2 separate regions of the Homo sapiens genome follow, and region 2 is linked to region 1. Evidence: fine-mapped expression QTL. A gene starts in region 1. The other region holds a variant in brackets. All regions are shown on one strand. Distances are from middle to middle. Region 1 holds the start of SLC7A8 (solute carrier family 7 member 8). Region 2 overlaps SLC7A8 (solute carrier family 7 member 8).

Region 1 (8,333 bases):
AGGCCCCATGACAGATTGGACCCAGCAAAAGAATCAAGAAAATGCGGAGATCTGGCCTGCCACAGGCAGTGCCTCTTTATTTCTTTCCCACTAGTGCTGGGCTGGCTCCATGGAATCCCACCAAGTGCAGCAGACAGAGGAGTAATCTGTTGGAATTTTTGTCTCTGGTGTCAGAGCAAGGATTCATCATTATCTCCAGAAGAGCTGAATTAATTAACCATCATAACAAAGCAGGGTCAGCTGCATCCAAATTCTCAGGACTGCATAAACCCTAGAAGACACAACTTCCTTTGAACTTATGAATATGCCCAAAAGGCAAACAGAGCATACACTAAAAAGGGCTTAATCACTGACCGAGTCTCCTCATTTCATCTTCCTTTCTTTCTGACCTATTTTGGCCTTTTCTTTTTTTAATTTTTTCTTCTTTTCTCATTAATTTTCATCTGCTTTTCATTTTCTAATGAAGTAAAGGCATCTAAAACTACTGGCTCAGGAAGGCCCCATCTAATCGACCATAGGCAGTGATCCCTGGGACTCTGGGAAGAAAGTTGGCTTTAATTTAAAGCAGGGTTTCCTTCTGCTTTAAACTAAAGCACATAGATATGGGGCACATAGTTACGAGAAGAAGGATGGAGTGAGCGCATGGACTGTGAGTTGACTCCAGGGAGAGATTTGGGTCCTTTGTTGGTAACCTCAGACTTCCCAGCTCTGTTACAAAAAGCAAGAATAAAGTGCTGTCTATTGGATCTAGAAAAAAAAATCAGGAATGGAGTGCATGAGCTTTGTGCTCTATTCCTTTGCATTAGCAGACACGTCTAACTTGTCTCTGAAAGGGAATATTAACCCGGGTGTGGTGGCGCACATCTGTAGTCCCAGCTACTCGGGAGGCTGAGGCGGGAGGATCACTTGAGCCCAGGAGTTTGAGGCTGCTGTGAGCTGTGATTGTGCCACTACACTCCAGCCTGGGTGACAGAGTGAGACCTTGTCTCTAAAAAAGGGGGGAGTAGGGGAATATTAGAACATGACTGCGTGGGGGTTGTGTGTGTTTGTGTTTTAACTATCACAAGCAGCATGTCCCAAGCCATAACCTTTTCTGTCCAGTAGGTGTCAGCTACGCACAGCCTTTCTCTTTCTAAATCCATATTTGTAAGAAAACGGCCTTTCATCCATAATTTTCCCTAGTTAAAGGGATCAATTTCTTCTGATCTGAAGCACGCAAAACAGCTGAAACAGTGGCTCCGATATTGGAAACAGAATTGTACTACGTACTTGGGATATGGCCACACTGAGGACTGTGCGAAGGGGGTGACAAATGTTGGGGGGGCCCAGGTGAAGTCCTGTGGGTCTCACTGAGCAGATAAGTGTTAGGATCAAGGTGAGTCTCTAAAAGGCACAGTTAAGACACCAAAGCAAAAACACAGAGTTTCCCTCAGGTGAAAGAAATTGAGGCTTTGACCAGTAGCTATAGCATCCTGAAAAAGTGCTCAGTGTAAACTATCAATCTCCCATTTGCCCTCAAATAGACTGTCTTGTTTTTTACCTCAGGTAAAATATTTCTTTAAGCCTCAGGTTTCTAATTTTTAAAATCTTTAAGATAACTGCCTCGTCTGCCCAAGATACTACATGAGGAGGAAAAAAATTGAGATATTGTTCAGAAAACCATTTGTGGGCTATAAAGCACTATTTAAACGTAGAGAATAGAATAAAAATATAAAGGCAAATGCAGAATAGAGTAATCCCAGCACTTTGGGAGGCCGAGGCGGGTGGATCACAAGGTTAGGAGTTCAAGACGAGCCTAACCAACAGGGTGAAACCCCGTCTCTACTAAAAACACAAAAATTAGCCAGGCATGGTGGCAGGTGCCTGTAATCCCAGCTACTTAGGAGGCTGAGGCAGGAGAATCACTTGAACCTAGGAGCCAGAGGTTGCAGTGAGCCGAGAGCCGAGATCGCACCACTGCAGTCCGGCCAGAGCAGCAGAGCGAGACTCCTTCTCAAAAAAAAAAAAAATGCTCAAAATTTAATAAACATTAGTTTGTAATTTTTTACAGATTTTTGTCAACATATTACACCAAGGCTTTTCTTTCTCTCTTGTGTTCAATGTTAGTCACCTGGAATTTTGACACACTTAAGAGTTTATGTCACAAAAAGATTCCAACCTACAGAGAGGCACTTAATATAAATAATGCTCCCTTTGAAAGTGGGGAGATTCCTTTCCTAGCTTTGTTTGTTTGTTTGTTTTGGTTTGGTTTTTTTAAAGACAGGGTCTCACTTTGCCACCCAGGCTGGAGTGCAGTGGTGCGATCTTGGCTCATTGCAGCCTCAACCTCCATGGCTCACACGATCCTCCCACCTCAGCCTCCTGAGTAGCTGGGATTACAGGCGTGAGCCACCACACCCAGCTAATTTTTGTATTTTTTGTAGAGATGGGGTTTCACCACATTGCCCAGTCTGGTCTTGAACTCCTGAGTTCAAGCACTCCACCTGCTTCGGCCTCCCAAAGTGCTGGAATTACAGGCATGAGCCACCGTGCCCAGCCCCTTTCCTAGATATTACATCGCACCAGTAATCAATGGTAATAAGCCACTTATAAATTCCAAGTGCTAAAGAAATAGAAATACTAATCTTCAGCAACTCTTCCTTTCCAACGTGTGCACCTAGTACCGCTGTATTCCAAGAACGTATTTGATCCCATAACCCCCTTAGCTTCTTAGTTCATAATTTGAGAGGGCTAAAGCTTACCATATCGTTATCAGTTTGCACTGGTTTTAGCAAGAGACCTCAAATTCATCACATTCATGTTTTATCCCACATTAAGTCTGCATCATATAAATTAGAACTACCAAATATTACTGAAAGAACTCACGTTTAAGAAGCAGAAACATTATTTGTTTTATATGGTGATGTTGAAATCGGAGCAGAAGTCTTCAAATCTGAATGTATACAAATGAATCTATCAAATTTTTCCTCAGTGCTTTCTAAGGTTGTCAGGAAAGGCTAGAGGCAAATTCGACATTTTTTCATTTCCCATGACTCATTCCCTCCCATGGAGTTTCGTGCTATATATTCCCTGCCTTGTCTGGTTTTTTTTGTTGTTGTTTGTTGTTTTTTTTTTGCTGAGTCTTTCAATTTGCTGTGTCTTGAACTAGCAAAAGGAGGAGAGGAAGTTCCTCCCAACCTTTGAAACCTCTTAATACTTGCTGAGTGATCAAGGGGGCAGATGACTGCTGATTGGACTTTACCCCATTTGAAAAAGCTTTTGCTATGATAGCTCAACAAACCTCATTTTAAGGAATTAAGTATTTATTTTCCTTAAAACCCAAAATCTTTTGGAACATTTTCCAGAAAGTGAGGCCAAATTTTTGTAGTTAGGGGTCAGTTTGGGGGAACTTAATTTTTTAGGCCCACTTTAAAATTAAATAATTTTGCATAATATATTTAATAAGGCTAAAAATAACTTTATTTTAGACTTATAGTGTTGTCCACTATATTGCTTCATGCTGTTTTTTCGAAATAATTTACAATTATAAATAGACATTGTTGCTCTCACCTTAAGGCAGCAGTTTCTGAGTGAAATTCTTCAAGAAAGTGGAGGCATCATTTCGATATGGTAATAAGCTAGTTATTCTAACATCAACAAGTATGTTTCATGATCAGCGATATACTGATAATTCCCCATGTGTGCTTTTCAAATAGTTTATAAATGCAAAAATATTAGAAGTTGCAGGATCAGGGTTTGAGTCATTTTTTTTCATGTTTCAGCCAGTCCTAAATAAGAGCTGTGAACAACAAGGCTACCTGGTGATTTTGTTTTTTATCTTTTTGTATGTGCATGTGGTTTTTCTGGCTTTTTGTTTTGTTTTGTTTTTGAGACAGGGTCTTGCTCTACCTCCCAGGCTGGAGTGCAGTGGCGTCATCATAGCTCACTGCAGCCTTGACCTCCTGAGCTCAAGCAATCCTCCAGCCTCAGCCTCCTGAGTAGCTAAGACTACAGGCCTGCACCACTGCACCCGGCTAATTTTAAAATTTTTAGTAGACGGGGTCTCGCTCTGTTGCACAGGCTGGTCTCAGACTCCTGGGCTCACGTGATCCTCCCCTGTCAGCCTCCCAAAGCGCTGGGATTACAGGCGTGAGCCACCGCGCCTGGCGATTTTGTTTCCTCTGTACTCTTCGTAGCTCACAATTACGCTAAAAGAACCTTTTTCCCATTGTTAATTCCTTCCATTTCCCTCCCCCACCCGTCGATTCCCCCTATTTTTAGGAAACTCGAAGATGATGTCCTTTCAACGTTCTCTCCTGTATTCTCAAATACAGGATCCAGTCCTAAATATTTTTTAATACATTGGCTAGTTTATTTCTGATGGCATTAAAAGTATCGGCACAACTGTTCCCTGATTTATAAAGCTCACAGATGCTGTATGACCTGTAACATTATACTAGCTAATGAGCTCTCCCGGAACAGTTGACGTGGAAGGAGTTTACTTCCACTTGGTTGCAAGGAGAAAGATGGAGAAAGCGAGAGACGATTGCAAAAAGAAATAACTTAGTCCATTTTCTCAGTGCTGTTTGGGGGCTTTGTGCTAATACTTAAATTGCAGAGGAGGGAGGAGACGGGACTGAGGATGGAGGGGAGCAGAGGAGGCAGGGGCGGAGCCTCGGCGGGCGAATAAAACCCCTCGCTAAAGAGAAGCACGTTAGTGTGTGGAGAAGCCACTCTCCCGAAACCAGAGGGATGGGGCCGGCTGTGCAGTAGAACGGGGATCGAAAAGAGGAAAACAAGGGCACGAAGACCAGCGAGAAAGAAGAGGACACCTGGGAAAGGCGGAAGCAGAAGACGGGGAAGGGAAAAGAAACCCAAAGCAGGTGGAAACCAGATCTAGAGCAACACCGTCAGGTTCACAGTTTGTTTTTCTAGAAGAGAAGAAAGTACCTGAGGATTGCTCTTTTTTCCTACCGTTAATGAAAACTACTTTTGTCTTCATCATAAAAGAAAAAACTAAGGGGAGGTAAAGGCAGTCTCCTGTTTTATTAGGGGGAGAGGTGAAGGGAAATCCAGGCTCACTTTCTGAATAAGCCACTGCCTGGTGCACAGAGCAGAACCATCCTGGTTTCTGAAGACACATCCCTTTCAGCAGAATTCCAGCCGGAGTCGCTGGCACAGTTCTATTTTTATATTTAAATGTATGTCTCCCCTGGCCTTTTTTTTTTTTTTTTTTTTTAGCAACACTTTTCTTGTTTGTAAACGCGAGTGACCAGAAAGTGTGAATGCGGAGTAGGAATATTTTTCGTGTTCTCTTTTATCTGCTTGCCTTTTTTAGAGAGTAGCAGTGGTTCCTATTTCGGAAAAGGACGTTCTAATTCAAAGCTCTCTCCCAATATATTTACACGAATACGCATTTAGAAAGGGAGGCAGCTTTTGAGGTTGCAATCCTACTGAGAAGGATGGAAGAAGGAGCCAGGCACCGAAACAACACCGAAAAGAAACACCCAGGTGGGGGCGAGTCGGACGCCAGCCCCGAGGCTGGTTCCGGAGGGGGCGGAGTAGCCCTGAAGAAAGAGATCGGATTGGTCAGTGCCTGTGGTATCATCGTAGGTGAGTTCCATTCCTTCCCGCGGACCCCTCCTCTCCCCTCTGGTGGTCCTCCTGTGAGATCTTAACCCTTCGAAAGCATTATTGTTCTTCCTATTCCTTAGAAAAGGATTGTCAGTCACCTGAGCTGTAACTCACCTCCACTGGTCAAGTTTGAGAGGCATAGGAAATACATCATACATCTCTTCCTCCAAACCAGGCAAAGATTCTGCCCAGTGTTCATAGAATGGAGCAAATCGTGGTCAGAAACCCGGCTGATGATTAGCATTGCCTGGGAACTCCTTAAAAATACAGGTCCTGGTCTCGACACTTGGAGGTTCTAGTTCAATAGGTTTAAGGAGGGACTGAGGGACCTGAACAAGTTTGTATGCAGCTATTATTCCCAGGCTGGGGATGGGCTTTTAAGGTATATTTGGTAGCTATTTTGCAGTTTTATGTTAAATGAAACTATGGGATAGGTATTAAAAATAGCAAGAGCAATGCCCTGCCTTTTTATTTTAGCGTTTTCCACCTTATGCAGCACTTTTACTGTGTGAAGTAGCTGTGACAGGGCTGTTATTCCCATTTCACAGATGGGGAAGTTATGGAAGAAAAGAGGGGACAGATTGTGCCTCTCGGTAAGTGGAGAGTTTGCAGTTTCTCCAGTTGCCTGGTGGGGTCCACCTGTTTCTTAACAGCCACGGAGGACCCGGTGAAGCTCTCAGAGGGAATCAGGAGTAACTAGAATGTGTAGAATATGGAGTTGAGGAGGAACTGATGGGTAAAATATGTGTCCTAGCTGGGAGGTGCTGAAGGTGGGGAACCTGGGTGGCCCCAAGAGTGCCAGTGCAGGCCACTCAAACCCCCTGAATGTACTTTGCAGGGCAGGAGTCCCAAATACAGCTTCGTCTCTAGACAGCACATCCTCTTTCCAGAGAAGCCTTGGAGATGGATGGCAGGCAATAGCTCACTATTCCTGCCCTCACTTCAGAGTGAGAGATTGTTCTGCTATCTTTGGTAGGGGGCTTTACTTTCTTCCCAGAAAAAGGAGTGCAGGACGGTCAGGCATAGATATGCTTCTTTGTCATCTCTCCAGAGTTCCTTTATGAGAGCTCGTTGTGTCCTGGTGCCCCTGAACCAGTTTCTCTGGCTGACGCCATGTTCTATGCAATAGCTCAGAGATATTTTGGCATCTGAGCAATAGTGACACTGGAGAGCACTCTTGAAATCAAATAAAATCAGTGCAGTATTCAGATAATCCTCTTCACCTCTACACCCAGAACTTCAGTGACCAAGCTCTCTTCAGTCTCTAAAATGAAATCCCATCCCCCCCCCACCCCCACCAACTCCTCCTACACCCTGGAATCCTATTTTATGTGATTCCCTGACTCTGGGAAGTTTTCCAGGCCATCTACAGTTATAAGAAAGATAATGTTATAAGAAAAATTGTAGTCATGATCTGAATCTCTCTTTACTTTTTCTCATGACATTTTTTTTGCCTCTCCTTTACTTTATCTCAATTGTTCAAAAGAAATGAGAACAGCCAAGTATTCAGTATGTATAGCACATGCCAGTTTAAGGTCTATAAATAGCCCGTTCACCAATTTGACTGACAGAATTAAGCATTTTCCCCCTCTAGGAAGGTTCTGACTTATACACAGATGCGCACGCCCACAGGCACACAAGCACAATTAAACATCCTTCCTGCCTCAGCCTGGCTCGCCCTTCCCAATATAGGTTCAGGTATTCTTTTTTTTTGTTCAGACGGAGTCTCGCTCTGTGGCCCAGGCTGGAGTGCAGTGGCGCGATCTCGGCTCACTGCAAGCTCCGCCTCCCGGGTTCACGCCATTCTCCTGCCTCAGCCTCCCGAGTAGCTGGGACTACAGGCGCCCACCACCACGCCCTGCTAATTTTTTTTGTATTTTTAGTAGAGACGGGGTTTCACCGTGTTAACCAGGATGGTCTCGATCTCCAGGTTCAGGTATTCAAGGGTAGAGGGTATTTTCCTATATACTGATGTTTTTGTCTCTTCCTTTAACATCTTTTTCTAAGATTATGAAGAAATGGGAGTGTTCAGGTATAATAAGTACAATTTCTGTGGGTATATGTTACTACTGATTTGTCCACAACCTTATGGATGGTACTTCAATGGGAGAATAATCTCAAAGCTCCCCATGGTGGCATTACAGTAACTAGAATGGCAATTCTGGTGTTCTGTGATGAAAAGAGATTCCAAATATGTGATTTCAGAGAAATTGGGATATTTTTGCAAAACATGAGAATCCTTGTAGAGTTAATAGGCACTATTCTACCCCAACTTAAGCTAGAAACAAATTTCCCCTTTAAGATGATAACAGGGGACAAAATCCATTCTGCTTCCCCTCCCGAGTTGCTGTTGAGTCACAGATGTGCTGAGGAACTGCCCTTTCCTCTTCTGGAGAAGTTTCTCAGTGGATGATCGTGATTCAAGTGTTTTCAAGACCAAATGCAAAAATAGAAATGGCATTTTCTGTGTAGATTTCAGGGATCTGGTGTCCAATGTCAACACTGCAGAAAAAAAGAGAACTAAAAGGCAAAAAAAGGGCCGGGTGCGGTGGCTCACACCTGTAATCCCAGCACTTTGGGAGGCCAAGGCGGGCGGATCACGAGGTCAGGAGATCAAGACCATCCTGGCTAACACGGTGAAACCTCGTCTCTACTAAAAAATACAAAAAATTAGCCGGGCGTCGTGGCGCATGCCTGTAGTCCCAGCTACTCGTGAGGCT
Region 2 (8,333 bases), 29 kb after region 1:
ATATCCAAGACTCCATTTTTCTCTGTACGCCTTCTAACTAGCCAGCATTTAAAATCTAAATGTATTGAAAATCTCTTGATTTTTACTCAATGGACAGTTTGACTAACATCTCATTTTTCATTTTTATGATGCATTAAGATGAAAATTATTCTGTAAGCAGATTTTTTTTGGAAAAGAGAAAGAAACTAAAAAAATCCATCAGCTAATTACCATACTGAACTCCTACACTAAGGGGAGATAAGGTATGATTTATAGAGTCTTAGAAAAGATTAGTCTAGTGAAGAGAATCGTATGCAAAAACACATCATTACAATACAATGTGATGGGGAAAAAATGTGGGCAACACAGAGAACGGGGCTTCAAAGTTGGGAAGACAGTGCTTGGAAAGGCTCCCAGCTTGAGCTAAATGTTGAAAGGTAAGTAGATTTTATCCAAGGAACAGGGAATCACTGAAAGATTTTGAGCAGAGGAGTCACATGATTAGGTTCACATTTGGGAAAGAAAAGACTGAAACTTGAAGCAGAGAGACAAGCAGGCTAGGCATTTGTCCAGGCCAGAGAGATGGTAGCCTGAACTAAGAATGAAGTAACAAGGATGGAGAGATGACAAAAACAAGAAAGATTTAGGAGTAGAATCAGCTGGACATATTGATTAATTGACTACTAAGGGAAGGAATCAAGTTTGTCCCCAAATCAAAATGAAATACGTTTCAACTTAAATGTTCCCAGCATTGATGACAAGCAGTTAGAATGTGTTCTATGTCGGCCGGGCGCGGTGGCTTACGCCTGTAATCCCAGCACTTTGGGAGGCTGAGGCGGGTGGATCACGAGGTCAGGAGTTCGAGACCAGCCTGCCCAATATGGTGAAACCCCGTCGCTACTAAAAATACAAAAATTAGCTGGGCGTGGTGGCGGGGGCCTGTAGTCCCAGCTGCTCAGGAGGCTGAGGTAGGAGAATCACTTGAACCCAGGAGGCGGAGGTTGCAGTGAGCCGAGATTGCGCCACTGCACTCCAGCCTGGGCGACAGAGCTAGACTCCATGTCTGCCTTCCATGTCCTCCCTAGAGCCCCGAGGGGTGCTGAGCAGGTCTCTGGTTAGAACCTTCCCCAGGGTGGTGCTCCCAGGATCCTGCTCAAAATTTTGCCTGCTCTAGAGCAGTATAACTTAGAAAGGGATTGGGACTCTTGGGAAATGTTATATAAATGCAACACTTTATTCACTCAACAAACACTTATCAGTGCCCATGATGGGCTAGTTACTGTTCTTGGCACGGGGGAGACAACAATAAACCGAAAGACTCTCATTCTCATGTGAAGCAGCAGCAGCAGATTTAGCCTTCTTTCTTAACACATATTATACTACACCCACCTGTGTGTCCTCTATTGATGCCGCGGGTAATACACAATCAGTCATACGTTATTAAATATTTGAGTGTCTGTTCTGCTCCAGGCACTGTGGCAGGCATGGGGATACTTAGTTTTTGTACCAAGGAACCCACAGTCCAGTGGATGTTCCTGACAAGTATACAGGGAATTTCAGTTCAAACTGGAGTTCCAGTTCCCCAGGAGGCCAGCATCCAGGCAGCTCCTGCAAGAAAAGTGAGGATGGGACTGGGGTTGAAGAAGCTCTTGGAGAAAGTGACATGTAAATTGAGACTGAAAGACCAGTTGGACATAGTCAGGCAATATTCAGCACGGAGGGAGGGTGGAGTAGAATGGGGTGGGGAGAATGTTCTAGCAGAAGGAATTAACATGTGTCAAGGTCTGAGGACAGGAAAAATCACAGTTGTTTGTGGGAACTACAGGTTGTTCAGTATAGCCACACCATAGACTAGGAGGCAAGAAATATATAATAGAAGCAAGGACCCCATCATGAAAAGCCTCATGGGCCATAAAGAGATTGGGCTTTCCCTTAGGAGGAATGAGGTTTGAAGGGTTTCAGACAGAAGACCGACATGATCATATCTGTATTTTAGGAGAGTCATGCTGCAAAGCTAAAGGATGGATTGGTGAGGGGAATAAGATCAGAGGCAAGAAAAGATGATTACAATTCAGTTGTAAGGATTCAGATTGCAGATGACTATCATGTGCATCTTGGGGCAGTGGGAGTAGAGAAAAGTAGATGCATTTGGCATTTAGGAGGTAGAATTGGTAGGCCTTGGTGATTAAGGTTGAAGGAGTCAAGGACTGCATGGTCTTGTTGGGGATACAGGTGAAGTAAATCAAGGACAACACTGGGTCGTATTGTCTGTACGTATTGTTGTATCATCTGAATTGGTGTGGTTCAGACTGGTCAAGTTGACCCCTCTGTCCTTGTCACCCTTTCTACTCACTCTTCAACACTTAAGACTTGCTGGGACTTGAGAAAGCATCCCCTGTGCTTTTGGACTCTTATGTCTACAATGGCAGAGTAAGTAAGTTACCTGAGAAGTCAGCCTTCTTCTTCGTTTCAATGTGCTTCAACTGCTGGCCCAGATCACCTCCTCTTTCCTGATTCCCATAGTGTCTCTTCTGCTCTTCAGCTTCTACTCTCAGACAGAAGTTCTGCTGTTCAGAGAGTGTGTGTGCCCACACCCTGGAAATGGAGGAATGAGGGGCTTGTTCTGGGAATATGTCTACTTCTGATTGGAAGAACAGTGAATGAGATTGAGGTTTCCTGAAACAGGAAACTGTTTTGGAGTTCAGCTTCCACCAGGTGTGGTAGAGATTTGCCTACTTTCTTGTACCAGCCTAGAAACTTAAATTCTCTGGCCTTTTGTTGCTGACTGTCAAGGATCACTTTGTTTTTCTCAGAGGAGCCAGGGCCCATGGTTTAAATAAAGTCACCCATTAATTGTGTCTGGTAAACTTTTAAGGGTTAATGTGACACACCAAATTTATATCACATACCTAAGAACATAAAATCAGAAGGCTTATGGGAGTGAGGCCCAGTGGTACTTGGAGCTTTGGGGGAAAGAAAAAAGGGCATCTCTGTTATAAGAGTTCAGCAAGTTGTGCTCACTTTAGCGGCACATATACTAAAATTGGAGCAGTACAGAGAAGATTAGCATGGCCCCATGTACAGATGACATGCAAATTCACAAAGTGTTCCTTATTAAAAAGAGAAAAATATCCGGGCGCAGTGGCTCATTCCTGTAATCCCAGCACTTTGGGAGGCCGAGGAGGGCGGATCACCTGAGGTCGGGAGTTCAAGACCAGCCTGGCCAATGTGGAGAAACCCTGTCTCTACTAAAAATACAAAATTAGCCGGGCGTGGTGACATATGCCTGTAATCCCAGCTACTCGGGAGGCTGAGGCAGGAGAATCGCTTGAACCCGGGAGGCAGAGGTTGCGGTGAGCCGAGATCGTGCCATTGCACTCCAGCCTGGGCAACAAGAGCGAAACTCCATCTCAAAAAAAAAAAAGAAAAGAAAAGAAAAAAGAGTTCAGCAAGTTTAAGTACAAGCTACCCTTGGAATTGGGTTATAACTGAACCGTTTTGGGGGAATTTTGCAGCCTGGGTCCAGGTTTATAGAATTTAGTGAACACCAACAGAGCCTACAAGCCTTCTGGTCCAAGAACCAACTAAACCTCACAGGATCCACACCCTGTCTTCCAAGACTGAAATATGATGGAGGGTCAGGCTAGCCCTCCTGGGCTCAGTGCAGACTCAACAGAACCCATTCTCATCCACCTTGCTCCATGTCTCGGGGGACATCAGCCCTGAGAATTGGTGTGTGAGATAGCAATTTTTCAGGCCCAGGCTGAAAAAGTAATGAGTAGGATTAAAATAGGGTTCCCCAGGGTGGCATGGCAGGCCACCCTGGATTTCTTGGTGTCCAGTTTTTCGCTTCTCCCCGATCCAGGCCAGCTGAGGAGCCATGTTTAGCTCATGCTGAAGAGAGAACTACTCAGCTCTTGGAAAATGCTGAGCTGGGTATTCCTGCCTCTTGGCTGAGCTAAATACTGGGTGGTGATTCAGCAGAAACCCCAGCTCCAGCAGCTGGCGCAGGAGCTAACAGGATAAGAAGGAAGGGGAAGAGAGAGCCAGGAAGGGAGGAGGGGAGGGGATGGGGCAGTATGGGCAGGAGCTTAGCTGGAAGTGTTTGGTAAAAGCTGTGTGCCTCCAGGAGCACTCACAGCCCTCACAGCTTCTCTGCACCCTCCTCCTCTGCTGGTGTGTCCTTGGAAGAGAGAGGCCCTTCCGGAAGGCTCAGAGCACCTCCTCTCCTTTGGAGGGGGTTCCGAGATTTCTAAAACGTTGTAAGTGCTTCGAGATGAAAAGGGCTGGAGAAGGGGAAATGTTACTATCGTGCGATAGGCAAGATCTGTTTCAAAACCACACTCCCCACTGTGCACTTTATAGAAGCTGGGATCAAAGCGCAGTTTATGAGGAAGGGCTGCTTTGATTTTTTTTTTTTTTTTTTTT[TG/G]TCTGTTGTGTGGCTTTTTGTGGGTTTTTTTTTTTTAACGTTTTTCTCTTTCACCAGTCAAGTTATATGTATAACTTTATCAGACAAGTTATGTTACATGTACAATAATCCAGGTGCGGAAGGACTTTATAATGTGGGCCCCTCACCCGCTCTAAAAAATGTCTTGAGGTGGGGGTGGGCGGGGAATAGAGAAGGATTCTAGGAGGGTTCTGTGAAGCTGGATCCGTGTCTGCCCACTCCCCCACACCTCCAGGCCTCTCTGGGTCTTTGACGAGGAAAGACTGTTCCGTGTGGCCTGCGTGGGCAGAACTGGAACCTTATCAGAGCCTTGGGTTGTGTGCGTTAGAGGTCAAACAGGCCTCCGTGTTTTCTTTGCCTATCAGCGCCTTTTGGCAGCCGGCACTGCTTACCTCCTAGATCTGGAAACGCCTGCGGTTGGACAGGCCAAGCCGAAGCGGCTTTTCCACAATTAGAAACACGTGCTCAGTTCCTTCCACAAGCGGGGGAGGCGGCCAAGGAACTCGGTGCAGCCAATCACAGAGCCGAGCGTAGCCACACCCACGCCCCCACAGGCCCGGCTTCCCTGCCCAGCGGCTCCAACCTCCAGCCTGGGCACCCAGACCCAGAGGGCTGCTGGGAGGGACATGCCTCACCCCTTTTGCTCCAGCTGGAGGGGAGGGAGTCTGTGGGAGCTGGCCAGAGCGTGGCAGAAGGCAGAGAAGTGAACGCCCCAGCAAAAGGTGAGGCTGAGAAGCCAACCCTTCTGGCAGGCCATGACCCAGGTGAAATTTATGGCGTTTCAGAGGGCTGGGGAGCTCCATCCAGAAAGGTGCCTGTTTTGCAGGTTTGGAGAGGAACAGGGCGTTCTGATTTCTACAAAGTGGCGTCACTGCTTCCTTTTTCAGCAACCGTCTGCTTAGTACATTCCATCTTGCTGTTTTCAGTCCTGGCCTCTCTCTGTTCTGCTCCTCTCAAGCCCTTTTTCTCTCCCACTCATCTGCATTGTCCTCCCCTTGCTCTCTCCCGCCCTGTGGTTTCTTGTGCTCTTTCCCTCTCTTCTTCACCATCTGTCTTTATGGACTTTGGCAAGTCTGGACATTTTTCCCCCTTTCTACTGCCTGTTTTCACTTATCTGAACAGACAAGGAGGAGTGGCCTGGTTCTGGAAATGTTAAAGGAAAACCAAGCCTTTCCAAGCCAGTCCAGTCCACTCCTGAGAAAGGTGCAAGCCAGCGAGACCGAGAAATCCAAATGGAGTTCCGGGAGTTTGGAGGGAACATGTGACTGTGACATTGATTAAGGGGGCTGGTGGGAGGGGACCCAAGGTGGAGATCCCTGTGGGAAATGACTTTCTAAAGCCCTGGGAGCAATGGATGCACCTTTCTTGGTTTCTGAGGCATAACTGTGAAAGTCTTCCCCTTTTGCCATATTGGCATCTTCCTTCCTGCTGCACAGAAAGCAGTCCAGGCTGGGGCTAACCAGTGTCTTGGTGACAGACCCAGAGTCCCAAGTGGCACTGGCAGTAGTGACCATGGGTACCACTGACCCAAGCAGGAGGAGAGATGATGTGGGAGCGGCCAAGGGAAAGCAGAGTGATCTGTGTATAATGAAGGAAGGCGGGGCAGAGGCAGAACAAGCAACTGGGAATTGGGCTGTCCCAGTCTGGTCTTTGCTGCGAATTAGCTGGGGTCTAAATTCACTCACATATAAAATGAGGTTCTGGGGCCGCCATGGTGGCTCACAACTGTAATCCTAGCACTTTGGGAAGCCGAGTCAGGCAGATCGCTCAAGCCCAGGACTGGGAAGCTGCAGTGAGCTATGATCATGCCACTGCACTTCAGCCTGGGCGACAGAATGAGACTCCCATCTGTAAAAGAAAAATAAAATGAGGTTCTGGGTCTCTAAGGTCATTCCTGCCTTCTGATCACCCATGAGGCTGGACACAAGCCTTGGGTGGTAGGGCGCAGGCTTCAAATATTTACCTCTAGGGCCAAGAGTTGACTACAAGGAGAGTCCCAACTGGTTCATTCTTCTTAGCACTGTCCTTATAACAACCAATCCAGCCCCGTATCCAGGTGGCCCTATCCCAACCTTTACCCTGTCAGACCAGAATAGTGTGGCTCATCGAGTGGCAGCTGGCTTAGTAGAAGAAATGAGATTGGTTCAGGGATCCATGTGGGAATGTTCATTGGCTCCCTGAGGGAGGCACAAAATGACCCCCTGCTGGCCCAGCTCAATGAGAAGCCAGAGTCCTGTATCCAAAGCAAGGGAGCACCTGAAAACATCACCGGGTGTGGCGGCTCATGCCTGTAATCGCAGCACTTTGGGAGGCCAAGGCAGGTGGCTCACTTGAGCCCAGGAGTTCTAGAGACCAGCCTGGGCAACCTGGCATAACCCGTCTCTACAAAAAATACAAAAATTAGCTGGGCCTGGTGGCACACACCTCAGCTACTCAGGAGGCTGAGGTGGGAGGATCACCTGAGTCTGGGGAGGTTGAGACTGCAGTGAGCCATCATCATGCCACTGCACTCCAGCCTGGATGACAGAGTAAGACCCTGTCTCAAAAAAAAGAAAACATTGGTGGCTCATGCCTGTAATCCCAGCACTTTGAGAGGCCAAAGTGGGCAGATTGCTAGAGCTCAGGAGTTCAAGACCAGCCTGGGCAACATGGCGAAACCCCATCTCTACCAAAAATACAAAAAATTAGCTGGGCGTGGTGGCACATGCCTGTGGTCCCAGCTACTCAGGAGGCTGAGGTGGGAGGACTGCTTGAGCCCAGGAGGCAGAGATTGTAGTTTGCCAACATCAGGCCACTGCATTCCAGCCTGGGTGACAGAATGAGACTGCTCTCAAAAAAAAGAAAACAGTTATCAAGTAGTCTCTCTCTGGGAATAACGTGTACTCTTAGTGAGCTTTTTTTTTCTTTGCTTTTGTTTTGTTTTGTTTTTGTTTTGTTTTGTTTGAGGTGGAATCTCTGTCACCCAGGCTGGAGTGCAGTGGCACGATCTTGGCTCACTGCAACCTCTGCCTCCCAGGTTCAAGTGATTCTCAGCCTCCCGAATAGCTGGCATTACAGGCATGCTAATTTTTGTGTTTTTAATAGAGACAGGGTTTTGCTATATTGGCCAGGCTGGTCTTAAACTCCTGAACTCAAGTGATCTATCCGCCTCAGCTTCCCAAAGTGCTGGGATTACAGGTATGACCCACTGTGCCCAGCAAGCTTTTTGCTTTTTTTTTTTTTTTTTTTTTTAAGAGACAGGGTTACCCAGGCCAGCATGCAATGGCACAATCACAGCTTACTGCAGCCTTGAATTCCTGGGCTCAAGTGATCCTCCCACCCCAGCCTCCCTTGTAGCTGGGACTACAGGTATGTGTCACCACATCTGGCTAATTTTCTGTTATTTTTTAAGAGACAGGATCTTGCTGTGTTGCCCAGGCTGGCCTCGAACTTCTGGCCTCAATTGATCCTCCCACCTCAGTCTCTACTGTCACTGGGATTACAGGTGTCAGTGACTGTGCCTGGCTGTACTTTGTGAGCTTTCCTAGAGGAAGGAGAGACAGCCACAATATGTACCCTCTCCCCACAACTCTGTCTGGCATCCGGGGCACTTGCTGGCCTTGCTTCATGGGCCATCCTATGACATATTAAACCTGATATTTACTCCCTAGAGCAGCACGGTGGCTTCTATGTGCACCCTCCTTGAATTTTCTGTGTAGATGTATCTATCTGTCGTTTCCATTCAGTAAGCTTTAGCGCCTACTGTGTGCCAGACAGGACCTCAAGGCCACACCAGCCACCAGGGGATTGTTTATGGCTGCGTGTGCACCGCTGGCTGTGGACAGTCTCCGTGGGGCCTGAGGAGTGGGGCAGCACGGGCAGCAACCGCACAGCTCTTCAGCTTTCTGCAGGGTGTTCCTCCCTAGCA

The links. PIP is the estimated chance that this variant, and not a neighbour inherited with it, causes the effect.
Region 2: its variant is fine-mapped to the expression of SLC7A8 in whole blood (INTERVAL, PIP above 0.99). The same link has a PIP of 0.9 or more in activated naive CD4 T cells.

The regions. Positions count from the first base shown.
Region 1 is chr14:23,180,023-23,188,355 of GRCh38, reverse strand. It overlaps SLC7A8 (solute carrier family 7 member 8), which reads left to right and starts at 4,696. Exons shown (of 11, transcript NM_012244.4): 1 at 4,696-5,592. The coding sequence starts at 5,442. It also overlaps a transcript of RNF212B not described here.
Region 2 is chr14:23,151,074-23,159,406 of GRCh38, reverse strand. All of the region lies in intron 3 of SLC7A8 (solute carrier family 7 member 8), which reads left to right. It also overlaps the pseudogene RNU6-1138P. Among named protein-coding and RNA genes, the nearest start is that of SLC7A8, 28 kb to the left of the region's middle. The variant TG/G (reference allele first, on the strand shown) is at 4,408.